2 separate regions of the Homo sapiens genome follow, and region 2 is linked to region 1. The links come from fine-mapping of genetic effects on gene expression. Tissue or cell type: whole blood. Region 1 holds a variant in brackets; the other region holds the start of a gene. All regions are shown on one strand. Distances are from middle to middle.

Region 1 (8,107 bases):
AGAACAATGGTAATTGTATCTGATTGCTAAAAGAAAGTCCCAAAGAACAACACTAATCAGCTGAAATATAGTTATAACAAAGGAAGTCCAGAATTTGACTTCTATAGAACTGTTTTCCATTTGACAGAATATAAAGCAATGGAAAACAGATAAAATTATACATTATTTAGATGAAACCTATCACATTACATTGAGTACATCATTAGACTTGTAAAAGCAATTCTGCAGTTACTGTTTTGATTCAGAGGCTTTTGTATCTTAAGCTACACTAAGTACAGAAGCAATTGGTATGAAATATATACACTTTTTTTTTTTTTGAGACAAGGTTTTGCTCTATTGCCCAGGCTGGAGTGCTAGAGTGCAGTGGCATGATCTCTGCTCACTGCAGCCTCCACCTCCTGGGCTTAAGCAAGATACACATTTTAATAGAATGTGTATTTGAATCAAAGTGCCTTGAAGTTTTTCCAGCTTCAAATATAGGAGGAAACTTTTCAAGGTTTAGTTCCCATATCTCAGCGCTGATTTGTGCCACTCAAAATGAATAAAACATAGACTCTTGGTTTGAGTATAAACGTCCAACAGTCTTACAGTCTGGGTAGTTTGTGTTGTGACAAAGCATATTACTAATGCAACTGTTACCACATACAGTGGATTAAGACTGGATTAAAACCTGGATTCCACTTCAGAAAAGGCAAGTCTATTATCCATTCATTCATTCACTCATCTTTTTCTTCCCCTGGAGGTATCCAGGCTACATTTGTAATGAACTAGGTTTCCTGTTGATGCCAGAGCATAAGGCAGATTCTCTTTTTGTTTTGTTCTTTTTATGAGATAAAACACAAATTCCTGACAAGACGTATTATTTCCATAAACAACATTCCTTTCTTTTTCACCTTTTTTGGTTTCTGCAGGGTTTGAAATGCTCATGAGTGGGATAGTATTTCCTCCCTGAAAAGGCTTGGATAACATCAAGAGATAATTTTTTTTCTATATGTTGGTTAGCAAGAGAGAATTAGCTCATTAAGAAGAAAGTCTGTGAATATTTTTATTGTTAGGTGAGATTTTCATCCCTATTTCAAGGACATTCAAATTCCAATGGCTATCTAGTAAGTTGGGATAAATCCATCTATCCATCCATCCATTTTTAAAAATTGTTTTTTCTTTCATCCAACTATCCATCCAACAAGCGCCTACCACATACTTTTTAGGTACCAGGCACTGTGCTCAATACTGTTATGTAAATACAAAACTACTTCAGTCCTTGTTCTAAAGCAGTTTTCAGCTTAACAGGGGAGGCAAGTATTCAAAGCAACAATTACAATATAGTAAGATACATGCGATTATGCAGGTGTTATGGAAGCTAATGCATAGGCATCCTGATTACTTACTGATTAGCATGATAATACCTTGCCAGGCCTTCAGGTTTTAGATGAGCTAGATTCTAGCTCCAGACTGCCTAGGTTTAAATCCTACCCCTGATACTTGGTAATTGTGTAGCCGTGGACAAGTTAGGTGATCAGTCTGTACCTCAATTTCATCATCTGTGAAGTGGAGATAATAATTATACCTGTTGCATAAGGCTGATACCAAGGTAAAACAAGTTAATATATGTAAAGAACTGGAATTAGTAATATTTAGCAGTATTTACATACACTATGTAAATGTTAATTATAGAGGAGGTTCCAAGATGGCCAAATAGGAACAGCTCCAGTCTGCAGCTCCCAGCATGAGCGACGCAGAAGACTGGTGATTTCTGCATTTCCAACTGAGGTACCGGGTTCATCTCACTGGGGTTTGTCAGACAGTGCAGCCCACGGAGCAGGGCAGGGCATTGCCTCACCCAGGAAGTGCAAGGGATTGGGGAATTCCCTTTCCTGGTGAAGGGAAGCCGTGACAGACGGTACCTGGAAAATCAGGACACTCCCACCCTAATACTGCGCTTTTCCAATGGCCTTAGCAAATGGCACACCAGGAGATTATATCCCGCGCATGACTTGGAGGGTCCCACGCCCACGGAGCCTCGCTCACTGCTAGCACAGCAGTCTGAGATTGAACTGCAAGGTGGCAGTGAGGCTAGGGGAGGGGCGTCCACCATTGCTGAGGCATGAGTAGGTAAATAAAGCGGCTGGGAAGCTTGAACTGGGTGGAGCCCACCACAGCACAAGGATGCCTGCCTGCCTCTGTAGACTCCACCTCTGGGGGCAGGGCATAGCTGAACAAAAGGCAGCAGAAACTTCTGCAGACTTAAACGTCCTTGTCCGACAGCTTTGAAGAGAGTAGTGGTTCTCCCAGCACAGAGTTTGAGATCTGAGAAAGGACAGACTGCCTCCTCAAGTGGGTCCCTGACCCCTGAGTAGCCTAACTGGGAGAAGCCTCCCAGTAGGGGCCGACTGACACCTCATACAGCCTGTGCCCCTCTGAGATGAAGCTTCCAGAGGAAGGATCGGGCAGCAACATTCGCCATTCTGCAATATTTGCTGTTCGGCCACCTCGGCTGGTGATACCCAGGCAAACAGGGTCTGGAGTGGACCTCCAGCAAACTCCAACAGACCAGCAGCTGAGGGTCCTGATTGTTAAAAGGAAAACTAAGAAATAGAAAGGACACCCACACCAAAACCCCATCTGTACATCACCACCATCAAAGACCAAAGGTAGATAAAACCACAAAGATGGGGAGAAACCAGAGCAGAAAAGCTGAAAATTCTAAAAATCAGAGTGCCTCTTCTCCTCCAAAGGAACACAGCTCCTCACCAGCAACGGAACAAAGATGGACAGAGAATGACTTTGACGAGTTAAGAGAAGAAGGCTTCAGACGATCGGTAATAAGAAACTTCTCTGAGCTAAAGGAAGAGGTTCAAACCCATCACAAAGAAGCTAAAAACCTTGAAAAATGATTAGACAAATGGCTAGCTAGAATAAACAGTGGAGAGAAGTCCTTAAAGGACCTGATGGAGCTGAAAACCACGGCACAAGAACTACGTGACGTATGTACAAGCTTCAGTAGCTGATTTGATCAAGTGGAAGAAAGGGTATCAGTGATTGAAGATCAAATGAATGAAATGAAGTGAGAAGAGAAGTTTAGAGAAAAAAGAGTAAAAAGAAATGAACAAAGTCTCCAAGAAATACGGGACTATGTGAAAAGACCAAATCTACGTCTGATTGGCATACCTGAAAGTGACGGGGAGAATGCAAACAAGTTGGAAAACACTCTTCAGGATATTATCGCAGAGAACTTCCCCAACCTAGTGAGGCAGGCCAACATTCAAATTCAGGAAACACAGAGAATGCCACAAAGATACTCCTCGAGAAGAGCAACTCCAAGACACATAATTGTCAGATTCACCAAAGTTGAAATGAAGGAAAAAATGTTAAGGGCAGCCAGAAAGAAAGGTTGGGTTACCCAAAAAGGGAAGCCCATCAGACTAACATCAGATCTCTCAGCAGAAACTCTACAAGCCAGAAGAGAGTAGGGGCCAATATTCAACATTCTTAAAGAAAAGAATTTTCAACCCAGAATTTCATATCCAGCCAAACTAAGCTTCATAAGTGAAGGAGCAATAAAATCCTTTACAGACAAACAAATGCTGAGAGATTTTGTCACCACCAGGCCTGCCTTACAAGAGCTCCTGAAGGAAGCACTAAACATGGAAAGGAACAACCAGTACCAGCCACTGCAAAAACATGCCAAATTGTAAAGACCTTCAATGCTAGGAAGAAACTAACGAGCAAAACAACCAGCTAACATCATGACAGGATCAAATTCACACATAACAATATTAACCTTAAATGTAAATGGGCCAAATGCTCCAATTAAAAGACACAGACTGGCAAATTGGATAAAGAGTCAAGACCCATCAGTGTGCTGTATTCAGGAGACCCATCTCACGTGCAGAGACACACATAGACTCAAAATAAAGGGATGGAGGAAGATCTACCAAGCAAATGGAAAACCAAAAAAAAAAAAAAAAAAAAAAAGCAGGGGTAGCAATCCTAGTCTCTGATAAAACAGACTTTAAACCAACAAAGATCAAAAGAGACAGAGGAGGCCATTACATAATGGTAAAGGGATCAACTTAACAAGAAGAGCTAACTATCCTAAATATATATGCACCCAATACAGGAGCACCCAGATTCATAAAGCAAGTCCTTAGAGAACTACAAAGAGACTTAGACTCCCACACAATAATAATGGGAGATTTTAACACCCCACTGTCAACATTAGACAGACCCATGAGACAGAAAGTTAACAAAGACATCCAGGAATTGAACTCAGCTCTGCACCAAGTGGACCTAATAGACATCTACAGAACTCTCCACCCCAAATCAACAGAATATACATTCTTCTCAGCACCACACCACACTTATTCCAAAATTGACCACATAGTTGGAAGTAAAGCACTCCTCAGCAAATGTAAAAGAACAGAAATTATAACAAACTGTCTCTCAGACCACAGTGCAATCAAACTAGAACTCAGGATTAAGAAACTTACTCAAAACTACACAACTACATGGAAACTGAACAATCTGCTCCTGAATGACTACTGGGTACATAACGAAATGAAGGCAGAAATAAAGATGTTCTTTGAAACCAATGAGAACAAAGACACAACATACCAGAATCTCTGGGACACATTTAAA[G/A]CGGTGTGTAGAGGGAAATTTATAGCACTAAATGCCCACAAGAGAAAGCAGGAAAGATCTAAAATGGACACCCAAACATCACAATTGAAAGAACTAGAGAAGCAAGAGCAAACACATTCAAAAGCTAGCAGAAGGCAAGAAATAACTAAGATCAGAGAAGAACTGAAGGAGATAGAGACACAAAAAGCCCTTCAAAAAATCAATGAATCCAGGAGCTGGTTTTTTGAAAAGATCAACAAAATTGACAGACCACTAGCAAGACTAATAAAGAAGAAAAGAGAGAAGAATCAAATAGCTGCAATAAAAAATGATGAAGGGGATATCACCACCGATCCCACAGAAATACATACTACCATCAGAGAATACTATAAACACCTCTAAGCAAATAAACTAGAAAATCTGGAAGAAATCGATAAATTCCTGGACACATACACCCTCCCAAGACTAAACCAGGAAGAAGTTGAATCCCTGAATAGACCAATAAGAGGCTCTGAATTTGAGGCAATAATTAATAGCCTACCAACCAAAAAAAGTCCAGGACCAGACGGATTCACAGCCCAATTCTACCAGAGGTACAAAAAGGAGCTGGTACCATTCCTTCTGAAACTATTCCAATCAATAGAAAAAGAGGGAATCCTCACTAATTCATTTTATGAGGCCAACATCATCCTGATACCAAAGCCTGGCAGAGACACAACAAAAAAAGAGAATTTTAGACCAATATCCCTGATGAACAACAATGCAAAAATCCTCAATAAAATACTGGCAAACCGAATCCAGCAGCACATCAAAAAGCTTATCCACTATGATCAAGATGGCTTCATCCCTGGGATGCAAGGCTGGTTCAACATACGCAAATCAGTAAACATAATTCATCATATAAACAGAACCAAAGACAAAAACCACATGATTATCTCAATAGATGCAGAAAAGGCCTTTGACAAAATTCAACAGCCCTTCATGTTAAAAACTCTCAATAAACTAGGTATTGATGGGACGTATCTCAAAATAATAAGAGCTATTTATGACAGACCCACAGCCAATATCATACTGAATGGACAAAAACTGGAAGCATTCCCTTTGAAAACTGGCACAAGACAGGGATGCCCTCTCTCACCACTCCTATTCAATATAGTGTTGGAAGTTCTGGCCAGGGCAATCAGGCAAGAAAAAGAAATAAAAGGTATTCAATTAGGAAAAGAGGAAGTCAAATTGTCCCTGTTTGCAGATGACATGATTGTATACTTAGAAAACCCCATTGTCTCAGCCCAAAATCTCCTTAAGCTGATAAGCAACTTCAGCAAAGTCTCAGGATACAAAATCAATGTGCAAAAATCACAAGCATTCTTATACACCAATAACAGACAAACAGAGAGCCAACTCATGAGTGAACTCCCATTCACAATTGCTTCAAAGAGAACAAAATACCTAGGAATCCAACTTACAAGGGATGTGAAGGACCTCTTCAAGGAGAACGACAAATCACTGCTCAAAGAAATAAAAGAGGACACAAACAAATGGAAGAACATTCCATGCTCATGGATAGGAAGAATCGATATCGTGAAAATGGCCATACTGCCCAAGGTAATTTGTAGATTCAATGCCATCCCCATCAAGCTACCAATGACTTTCTTCACAGAATTGGAAAAAACTACTTTAAACTTCATATGGAACCAAAAAAGAGCCCGCATTGCCAAGTCAATCCTAAGCCAAAAGAACAAAGCTGAAGGCATCACGCTACCTGACTTCAAACTATACTACAAGGCTATAGTAACCAAAACAGCATGATACTGGTACCACAACAGAGATATGGACCAATGGAACAGAATAGAGCCCTCTGAAATAATACCACACATCTACAACCATCTGATCTTTGACAAACCTGACAAAAACAAGAAATGGGGAAAGGATTCCCTATTTAATGAATGGTGCTGGGAAAACTGGCTAGCCATAGGTAGAAAGCTGAAACTGGATCCCTTCCTTACACCTTATACGAAACTTAATTCAAGATGGATTAAAGACTTAAATGTTAGACCTAAAACCATAAAAACCCTAGAGGAAAACCTAGGCAATACCATTCAGGCCATAGGCATGGGCAAGGACTTCATGACTAAAACACCAAAAGCAATAGCAACAAAGCCAAAATTGACAAATGGGATCTAATTAAACTAAAGAGCTTCTGCACAGCGAAAGAAAATACCATCAGAGTGAACTGGCAACCTACGGAATGGGAGAAAATTTTTACAATCTACCCATCTGACAAAGAGCTAATATCCAGAATCTACAAAGAACTTAAACAAATTTACAAGAAAAAAATCAAACAACACCATCGAAAAGTGAGCAAAGGATATGAACAGACACTTCTCAAAAGAAGACATTTATGCAGCCAACAGACACATGAAAAAATGCTCATCATCACTGGCCATCAGAGAAATGCAAATTGAAACCACAATGAGATACCATCTCACACCACTTAGAATGGCGATCATTAAAAAGTCAGGAAACAACAGGGGCTGGAGAGGATGTGGAGAAATAGGAACACTTTTACACTGTTGGTGGGACTGTAAACGAGTTCAACCATTATGGAAGAAAGTGTGGCAATTCCTCAAGGATCTAGAATTAGCAATACCATTTGACCCAGCCATCCCATTACTGGGCATATACCCAAAGGATTATAAATCATGCTGCTATAAAGACACATTCACACGTATGTTTATTGAGGCACTATTCACAATAGCAAAGACTTGGAACCAACCCAAATGTCCATCAATGATAGACTGGATTAAGAAAAGGTGGCACATATACACCATGGAATACTATGCAGCCATTAAAAAGGATGAGTTCATGTCCTTTGTAGGGACATGGATGAAGCTGGAAACCATCATTCTGAGCAAACTATTGCAAGGACAGAAAACCAAACACTGCATGTTCTCACTCATAGGGGGGAATTGAACAATGAGAACACTTGGACACAGGGTGGGGAACATCACACACACCCCTGTCGAGGGGTGTGGGAAGGGGGAAGGGATAGCATTAGGAGATATACCTAATGTAAATGATGAGTTAATGGGTGCAGCACACCAACATGGCACATGTATACATATGTAACAAACCTGCAGGTTGTGCACATGTACCCTAGAACTTAAAGCATAATTTAAAAAATGTTAATTATAATTATCACCCCTACTTTTCAAAATGAACTTATCCATTAAAGCAGTAGTCTCCTAAGATGATCTGCTGGGAGCAGGAAAAAAATAGTAGAAATACTAGAAAATGAATTCCTACTTAGTTTTCCTTTTCTTTTTCTTTTTTTTTTTTTTTTTTTTTGTGACGGAATCTCGTTCTGTTGCCCAGGCTGGAGTGCAGTGGCTGGATCTCGGCTCACTGCAAGCTCAGCTTCCTGGATTCACGCCATTCTCCTGCCTCAGCCTCCCAAGTAGCTGGGACTACAGGTGCCCACCACCATGCC
Region 2 (8,107 bases), 170 kb before region 1:
AAACAGTACAATTAACAGTCATTTGATAAGTCTTGGCAAAGGCTTTTTTGGTAATCTTCATCAAAATTGAAGTGAATTATAGTGATGAGCTATAATAGCTTTGTAAAAAATCCTCTTTCAAGTCAGGTAGCTTTTAACTCTTAGCTTTCAACAAAGTTGAAGGAACACATTTAAAACATCAGCGTATAGATCATTAAAAATAATGTTTGATAGAAGATCATAACATGATGTATTACTAAGGAGATATTACTAAGGAGATCAACAAATTGAGTGATGGTTTAGTAACAAAACCCTTCCATTTCTATCTATTTGTGTATGAATATGGTTTCTCAAACCTTACTTCTGTATAAATAAAGACTAAGAATAAAATTGATGTTAAACTCCCATTCTAGCATTAAGTAATATTCATCCATGGGTACATGAATTAATTTTTAAAGATCCTATTCATCTTATCAATAGATTGATTTCCAATGCAATTTTTGTTCAAAAAGCTTTACTCAAAACTTGTAATACATGTATATTGCTTAGATCAAATGTAAATTAGTAGTAATTGTACTGATAATTCAATCTGGAGGAAAATTATTTCTCTTTACTATCAATTTACAAGGATATTTTTGTTGCAGATAAAGATTGTAGGGTATCAACAAAAGACTTCTAAGCATAAAGCATATTACACTTCTTTGGAGAAAGTAGAATGGGAATATGAGTTCAAGGAGAAAAAGGAATCATGTAAAATTTCATACCATTCAAGAAACATGTTTATGTCTTTTTAAAAGAATAATGAAATATCAAATTGTTATGGTATTTAGATTCCATTGCATACATTTTAAGTGTTATATAATGGCTTTATTTTTAAATGACCATCATTACGAAAGGTAAGTACATCCTTTGCAGCCATTTAAATTTATAATGACAAAATTAGAAGTCAATTGGAATACATAAGAAGGGATAGAGTTATTACAAATTCTTTTGAGGATGTTCCTGCAATTTAAAGTCATTGACTTGGAAGTTCCAATTGGGTATGCTTGCACAGCTATGTCAGCCTGATGCATCCATCTCATTTTAAGAATGGCCCTGACTCACAGGCTGGATATATGTTCATGTATATGGACCAAGTTCCCTTCTTAGAAACGAACTGAAACCTTTTTTGAACTGTGAGAACTCTCTCTTTTTTAAAGTTACCATGCAGATCATCTTTCTTTTGTTAAGAATCTTTTGTTTAGGCAAAACTTACTATGATCAGTTAGCTTTCTCAGAGAGTGGCCATTCATTCCAACAAAAAATATTTAATTGAATATCACGCAGGAGAAGTAGATAAATTTAGAAAAATGCAAGTAGTTTGGCCTGATGCTGGGTCTAACTGTTGGCATTACAGTCTTACAAGCTATGCTGAGAAGTAACGCTAAGATGATGTTCTAGATCAGGTTCGCAAACTGGAAGCTCCCAGGCTAAATATGATTTACTTAACATGATTTATTTGATCTACACTGTGTTTAAATTTTTAAAAAATTAGTTGACAAAATTTTACGACCAGGAGATATAACATAAAAATTCAGTTTTCCAGCTGTTCTTGGAAAATTGAAACTGGAAACATTGGGCCAGTAAGCTGAAACTGACCCAAGTAGTGCATAGTGGTTTCCATCTTTAAGTAGGACACGTCTCCAAATTTGCTATTACTCCTGCGTTTGTCTACACTAGCCTGCTTCACTCATTCATTATGCCTGCCTGACTACTATGGGCATTTGAGATTGAGACATTAACTTTGGTTTATTAGTTTCCCATGGGTTAGATGGAATCTGCAGAAGCCTAAATATCTATGTTGCATTACTGTGGCCCCATTAACTGCTTTCAGTAGGTCATTCATATTGTGCTCTCAACTTTCATAGACAGTTACCAAAAGAATTTGTATATTTCTCCTACATTTGTATGCTTCTCCAATGAGAAGCAAGCAACTGATTACATTCACCTTTTTTGCTTTGGCTGCCAGAAAGCTCTACATTTATGGCTTAACTATTGTATTGTGTTAATACCTCATAACCTGCAGATCCTTGTCCTTACTTTTTCTTTGGTGTTAACCTCCTAGTCTAGTTAGTTTCGTTGGTCCTCATTTTTTTATATATGTTTTTTTATTTTATTGTATGAATTTACTGGAAGCCTCTAAAATTACATGTTTATAAATAAAGCTGTATTGATTTATTTCCTTTCTAAAGATGGTTGGAGGATCTATGACATTTTGGTTCTCCTTAGGAGGTTACTATGGTTTTTAGTTTTCCTTGCTCACATATCCATTTACCACCTATGGAAATTACTTAGATTGTAAGCTTTTGGGGGACAAGGACATTTTTATGGTGGTCCCACAGTGCCCAGCATCTAGCACTTTCTATATAATGCCCTGTATTGCATAGTTACAGGATAATAAAAGTAAAAAGTAATAGTATTTTAATTTAAACTCCTTGGGTCACAAGGATTTTTAATCTGTACTGACTCATGAAAGTCTTGTCAATCAGAAAGAATGAGAGCTCCATCTACATATAGACTTTACACACTTTATCATAAAGGAATGTGTTATGTAAGACTGAGTGATAAACTTTCTCTAGTGATCAGGTGGGGGAAAGTAGCTCTGCTACCTTCAACTGCTAATAAATTTAGCTTCATTTATCTTTGTCTGAATCCTTATTTAATACCATGGACTCAGACTTCCTACACTACGTTCTATAATAGGGAGCATATAACAATCAAAATTACAAATGCCTATACAAAATCTTTACAATTGAATATAAAGAAAGTCTACAGAAACATTACTAGATTCATGAAAGTGAATAAATCTGTGTATATTTCAGTTATGGCAAAACATATAATCTAAGACTACATTTATAGTTTGGATTAGCCAAGTTTGCTGGGAAGAAAATGTTTTTCCCAGTGTAATGTATGAGGCAGGTTGTTGGAGACACTTTCTTCACGTGGCTCAGACTGCGGTCCAGCTGCTCAGGGCACTGTTTCATGGTTCTGTCCACAGCGCGTGCTCACTGCGTCATTTCTAAAGTTATTCACTTGTACTTAATTTCAAGCCATTTTTTTTTACTTTGAAAACTCTGAACGCCTCATTGAGGACAGTACATACAATGTGTGCCAAGGTCTGGTTTCAAAGTTTAGCTGTTTTTGAGTTATTTGACTGGACAAAAGGTCGAAAGATATCTTTCACAGCAGGGAAAGTGTAATTTTCCATGTCTTTATGATGTTTAGAAATAGTTGGAGTGATTTTTCCCTAAAATTTCCATAAGTAAATAACTTTTACCCGTGGCATAAGCTTGATTTTGAGATGCCTTGGCAAAAAATTTGAAAATAACCCTCTCCCTACCTCCAGTCTCCAGCCTCATCCTCAGTATGCACTCCAGCAATAAGGGAATTGGAGGGACCCCAGGTTAAAATCAAGACCTTTCATGTTTGGATTAAAAGTATGACGTATGGAAAGTTTTAGCTTCTAAAAACTTGTCTTTATCATTTAATATTACGTATGTTTTAGAAAAAAGCTGGGAGAAGAGCTCTGGTGTCTGAGATCACTCTCTCCAAATTCCTGTAGGGTCCTGCTATAATTCCTGATGGTATTTGCATCTCACTTATTCATGTACCTTACAGCCGACTTTCTTTTCCACAGATAGAATTGGCCTCCCACTTTAGGACAATGTGTCCTCCAAATTTGCTAGGGCAACTCCATACCTTACTTTAACTTCTTGCAGGACCTAACTCTCCAATCAGTCGTTAGTGTATATTTTTGTGTACTTGGCTCAAAGTCTTTCAGTGTGGATGTGGACCTTCCGGAGAGTAATCTCCTCCAATGAAGAGCAAATGGTCATAAGGAACATGTACGAGCAGGTATTCCTGTTAAGCCTTATGCTCCGTCTTTCACCCATCCACTTGCACAGGGGACTAGTTTCCTTTTATGATCCTACCCAAACGTTTGGCCTTTTTGGAGAAGTGAGGGAAGTGAGGGGTAGAATTTTTGAGACTCAGTTCAGGGCCTTTGATATGCTGTTCCTGTCCTTCAACAGATGTATCAAGTATCTCTGGGTCATCCCCTAAGACACGTTGGTGATGAACAATTCCTAGAACTGGTCTAATTTTTTTTTTTTTTTTTTTGGATAACAGCACAGTTTATATTTTTTGGGCATCTTCTTGAACTGTACAAGTATATTCAGCATCATTTCTCTGCCCTGTCGATCTTTTGTCTTTTCTTCTGTGCTGTCAATAACCTGTTTGGCAAATGTCTACTTCCATTGTCCACTCCGTGAGCAGTGTACACCGGTCTCCATCTCCCATTCCTGCAGGTCCCTTCGTGGAAACGGCAAAGTGCCTGACTGTAGTCCTCTCATTCTGGACTGACTCTGCCATCCACCAGCCTCTTCTCCCATTTCCCAGGGCTTCCTCCCACATCTGTCTATTTCATAGATCGCCTCCTCCTCTTAGGGAAGTTGAGTCTGTCGAGTTCCCCTGCACATCGCCTGCCAGTCCAAGTCTCCTGCCCGCCTCCCGCACGCCCTCCCGCGCCGCGGTGTCTGTGGGTCGGTTCCCAGACGCGCCCGCCGGCTCTTGGGCCTCCACTGGCTGGACGTGGGTCTGTCCCGCGCCCGCGCGTCCGTCCGTCCCCCACTTGCCTCCAATTCGGCAGGAACTTTACACCAGCCAGGAGGAGAAGGACGGTGCGCGCGGGTGCGGGTCTGGCCGGCTGGGGCCGGCGCGGGGGCGGCGAGGGGCGCCGGGCGGCGTCGGCTTGCGAGCGGGCCGGGGGCGTCGCGGGCCGCCCTGCCCTATAAGGGGCCGTGCCGCCTCCGCCGCCGGGCGGGTGCCGGGCGGACCGCGGCGGTGGCGGCGGCGGCTGCGATTGGCTCAGGCGCCCCATCCGGGGACTGGGCTCGGCGCTGCTCGTTCGCCCTAAAGGTACCAATATGGCGGAGGTGAGCAGGGAAACCGGGCAGGAGCAGCCGGGCTGGAGCGGGCGCCCGGCGGCTCCCCGCGACCCCCGAGCCAGCCTGGGGGATCCGGGGCTCTTTCCGCTGCCCCATGAGGGGCGGCGTGGCGACGCGGGGGTCGCGGGGCGGCGACTGGCCGTGGCGGGGCTGGCCGGGGGGCGGGAGCGGGCGCGGGAGCGGTCTCCCTCCGGGACTAGGCCGCGGCGGCTCCGGCCCCGGTCGGGCCGGGCGACCGAGCCGGACGGAGGTGGCGGCCGGCTGCAGTGAGCCCTGCCCCAGGGACGAGGCAGTGCCGTGTCCCCGGTCGCTGACGCGGGCCGCCGGCGCCTCCGCGCCTCTTCCCCGGGCCCGGGTGGGTGGAAACCGGCGGAGCCCCCCCTCCGCGGCCGGATCGCAAAGAGGGGAGCGGGCTGCGCCACTGCCCTGCGGGAGTCGTGCGCTGTGCCCCCGGCCCACCGGGCCCGGGCTGCGGCGCGAAGGAGCCGCACGCTTCACTTTGCTGGGGGCGCGGAGAAGAGCGGGATGCGGGGCCACCGGGCTTCTCAGAAGAGCGGGACTCCCCACCCCGCAGCCCGGGAGGTGCGGGAGCCCCTGGGGTTAAAGGGCAGACCGAGACCCTCGACGCCCTCTCCAGGAGAGCGGCTTGATAGCTCCAGTTTTCTCTGGGCTGGAGGAAGGAAGGCTGGGCGAGCGAAGCTGCCCCGGCCATGTCCCCCGGGACTGGTGAGCTGGGGGGAGGGGGCGGTGTGGCAGGAGCCCCTGGGCTGGAGCTCGCTGGGGCGGGGGGCGCGCTGACGGTCCAGGGAGGGACTGAACACTCTGGAAGGAGCCAGCATCCCTGGAACTGAGAGGAGCTGCATCTCTGGACTCGAGAGAGAGGATGGGGGGCTCGCGCTTTGGTTTGGGGGCGAGTGTCCGATTCGAGCTGGCCTACGCTGCAGGGGAAGAGATCGGCTTCGGAGTTGGGGCTCCCGGGCCCCAGGGGCGAACTAGGTGCTCAGAACGCGAGTTCGTTCCAGAAAAGGGTGTTACGTTTCGAGTTGTTTGGGGCTTCGGAGAGCCGGGTGGGATTTGGAGGACTCCGGAGATGCCAGGGATGGGGGACTGATGGTGCCAGCCGACTGCTCTGGGTTTTGCTTCTCTGCTTGGAAACTTGCTGAGCTCCAAGAAGCGACTTGGAGTTGCCTCTCAGACTCCGGGCTTCGTCCCGGGTCTGTGAGTTTGTACACTTGGGACTCGGGGAGGAAGGCGAGGCAGCCAAGAGGGGGCCCGAAAGGGGCCGGGAGCGATTCGAGTGAAGCTACGTCTTGCACTTTTGGCAGCTGCGGAGGAGCGCTCGACTCCGCCTCCTCTGCGCCCTGTTGCCGGCGCTGCCTCTTTCCCTGGCTGTGCGATCTAACCTCACGTTTTCTTCTCTCTCTCCTAGGCTTCTTTTGGAAGTTCGAGCCCAGGTTTGTCCTATTTTCTTACGTCTTCGGTGGTTCCCAGTGGGTAATGTGGGCTCAAAGGTCTGTTGCTAAAGGATTCCCAATAGAAATGTATCCTGCAGGTTTTTCTTCATTGATTTTTAAGAGTTTCAGTGTGCATTTAGTAAAGTTTGGGGAAGAAACAGTTATACTGTTCTTTGTTTTCTCTTGCATGTTGAAAAAGTAACTGTTACAAAGTTGCTAAGACAAGCGTTCTTTTAAGGAATATGGCTTTAATTATTACATATCTTATTTTTCCTCCGAGCCTGAAACAGTTAATCCCAAATTAACTTGACACCAACTTTAGCAATTTAGATTTTAACTTCGGTTTCTTCTAGAGATTGAGTAATTTGTCAGAACTCTGGGACTACTTCACTAACTGTAACCCCTCATCTCCTCTTACGTTGTTTCTTTTTCATAATTAAATGTCTATGAGTTGTGTTAAAATTGGAAGTTGAGAGGTAAAGCTACCTTAATAAAAAAGACAGAACTTCCAAGTTTGGCACAGAAAAAGGGTGATTTTGACTTCTGAGCTGAGACGATCTTAGGTCATCTAGTACAGTGTTTCTTAACTTTCCTGAGGTCAGAAACCCCTGTCAGGATCTAATGAAAGCAAGGGATGTGTCCCAGAACTCTGCACATATGCATAATTACACACAATCTGGGGTTTGTAGAATCCCTGTAGCAGGTCCATAAGGACCTTTCCTCATGTGCTAATCATGTAAGGTATCTTTGTTTCAGTTTCTCATTTCCTTTCTAGCTTACCTCTTTGCTGTCTTCCCTCTCCTAGTCTACAGGAAAAGCACCTCTGAACTAGTCCAACTCCATTATTTTACAGTTGAGGAGACTTTTAAATAACTTTCGTTAGTGGTGGAGCACAGATGAGCTCCTAAATCTTCCATTACAACTTGTTTCCATAGAGTGAATAGTCAGTTTCCTTACACTATTACTTTTTGTATCTGCTCCACCTTCAGAGCCTCACTTGACTGTCATTTAAGGTATTATAACACCAAGTAGAAGAAATTTGCAGCTATTTTAAAAATAGCTGTCTATATCTTTAAAATTCTAAAAATTTTTGTTAATTTTGAGATGAACTTTTTTGTTATAACTGATTTTAGGAAAATATATACATGATGTCAAACAGCTGGATTAATGGAATTTTTCCATTTGGTATCACTGACTTCTTTTAAGAAGTTGCACTCTAAATAAGCCAAAAGACAGTGTAACCTGTTTTTAATCAATTAGCCTCTTTTTGTTTTTTGTTTGTTTGTTTGAGACGTTATGCAGGCTGGAGTGCAATGGGGCAATCTCACTGTAACCTCCGCCTTTGAGGTTCAAGCTGTTCTCCTGCCTCAGCCTCCCAGGTGGCTGGTACTACAGGGATGCGCCACCACACCTGGCTGATTTTTTTGTATTTTTAGTAGAGATGGGGTTTCACCATGCTGGCTAGGCTGATCTTGAACTCCTGACCTCAAGTGATCCGCCTGCCTCGGCCTCCCAAAGTGCTGGGATTAATTAGCCAGTTTTTTAAAAAGAGAATTTTAGAGTTGGAAGGGACTTTTGAGGTCCTTTCAGTCATCCCCATGTATTTTGCAAATGGAAGACAGGAGCTAGACCTAGAAAGTTTAAATGACTTCCTTTAGGTCCCAAAAAGCCAAGGACAAAGCTGGGAGT

The links. PIP is the estimated chance that this variant, and not a neighbour inherited with it, causes the effect.
Region 2: MIER3 starts here. The variant in region 1 is fine-mapped to the expression of MIER3 in whole blood (INTERVAL, PIP 0.94).

Annotation. Positions count from the first base shown.
Region 1 is chr5:56,776,008-56,784,114 of GRCh38, reverse strand. No RefSeq gene overlaps it. Among named protein-coding and RNA genes, the nearest start is that of MAP3K1, 35 kb to the left of the region's middle. The variant G/A (reference allele first, on the strand shown) is at 4,639.
Region 2 is chr5:56,948,939-56,957,045 of GRCh38, reverse strand. It overlaps MIER3 (MIER family member 3), which reads left to right and starts at 4,923. Exons shown (of 13, transcript NM_001297599.2): 1 at 4,923-4,952; 2 at 6,394-6,418. The coding sequence starts at 4,944. RefSeq lists silencers at 4,642-5,061, 5,092-5,201, 5,262-5,431 and an enhancer at 6,002-6,091.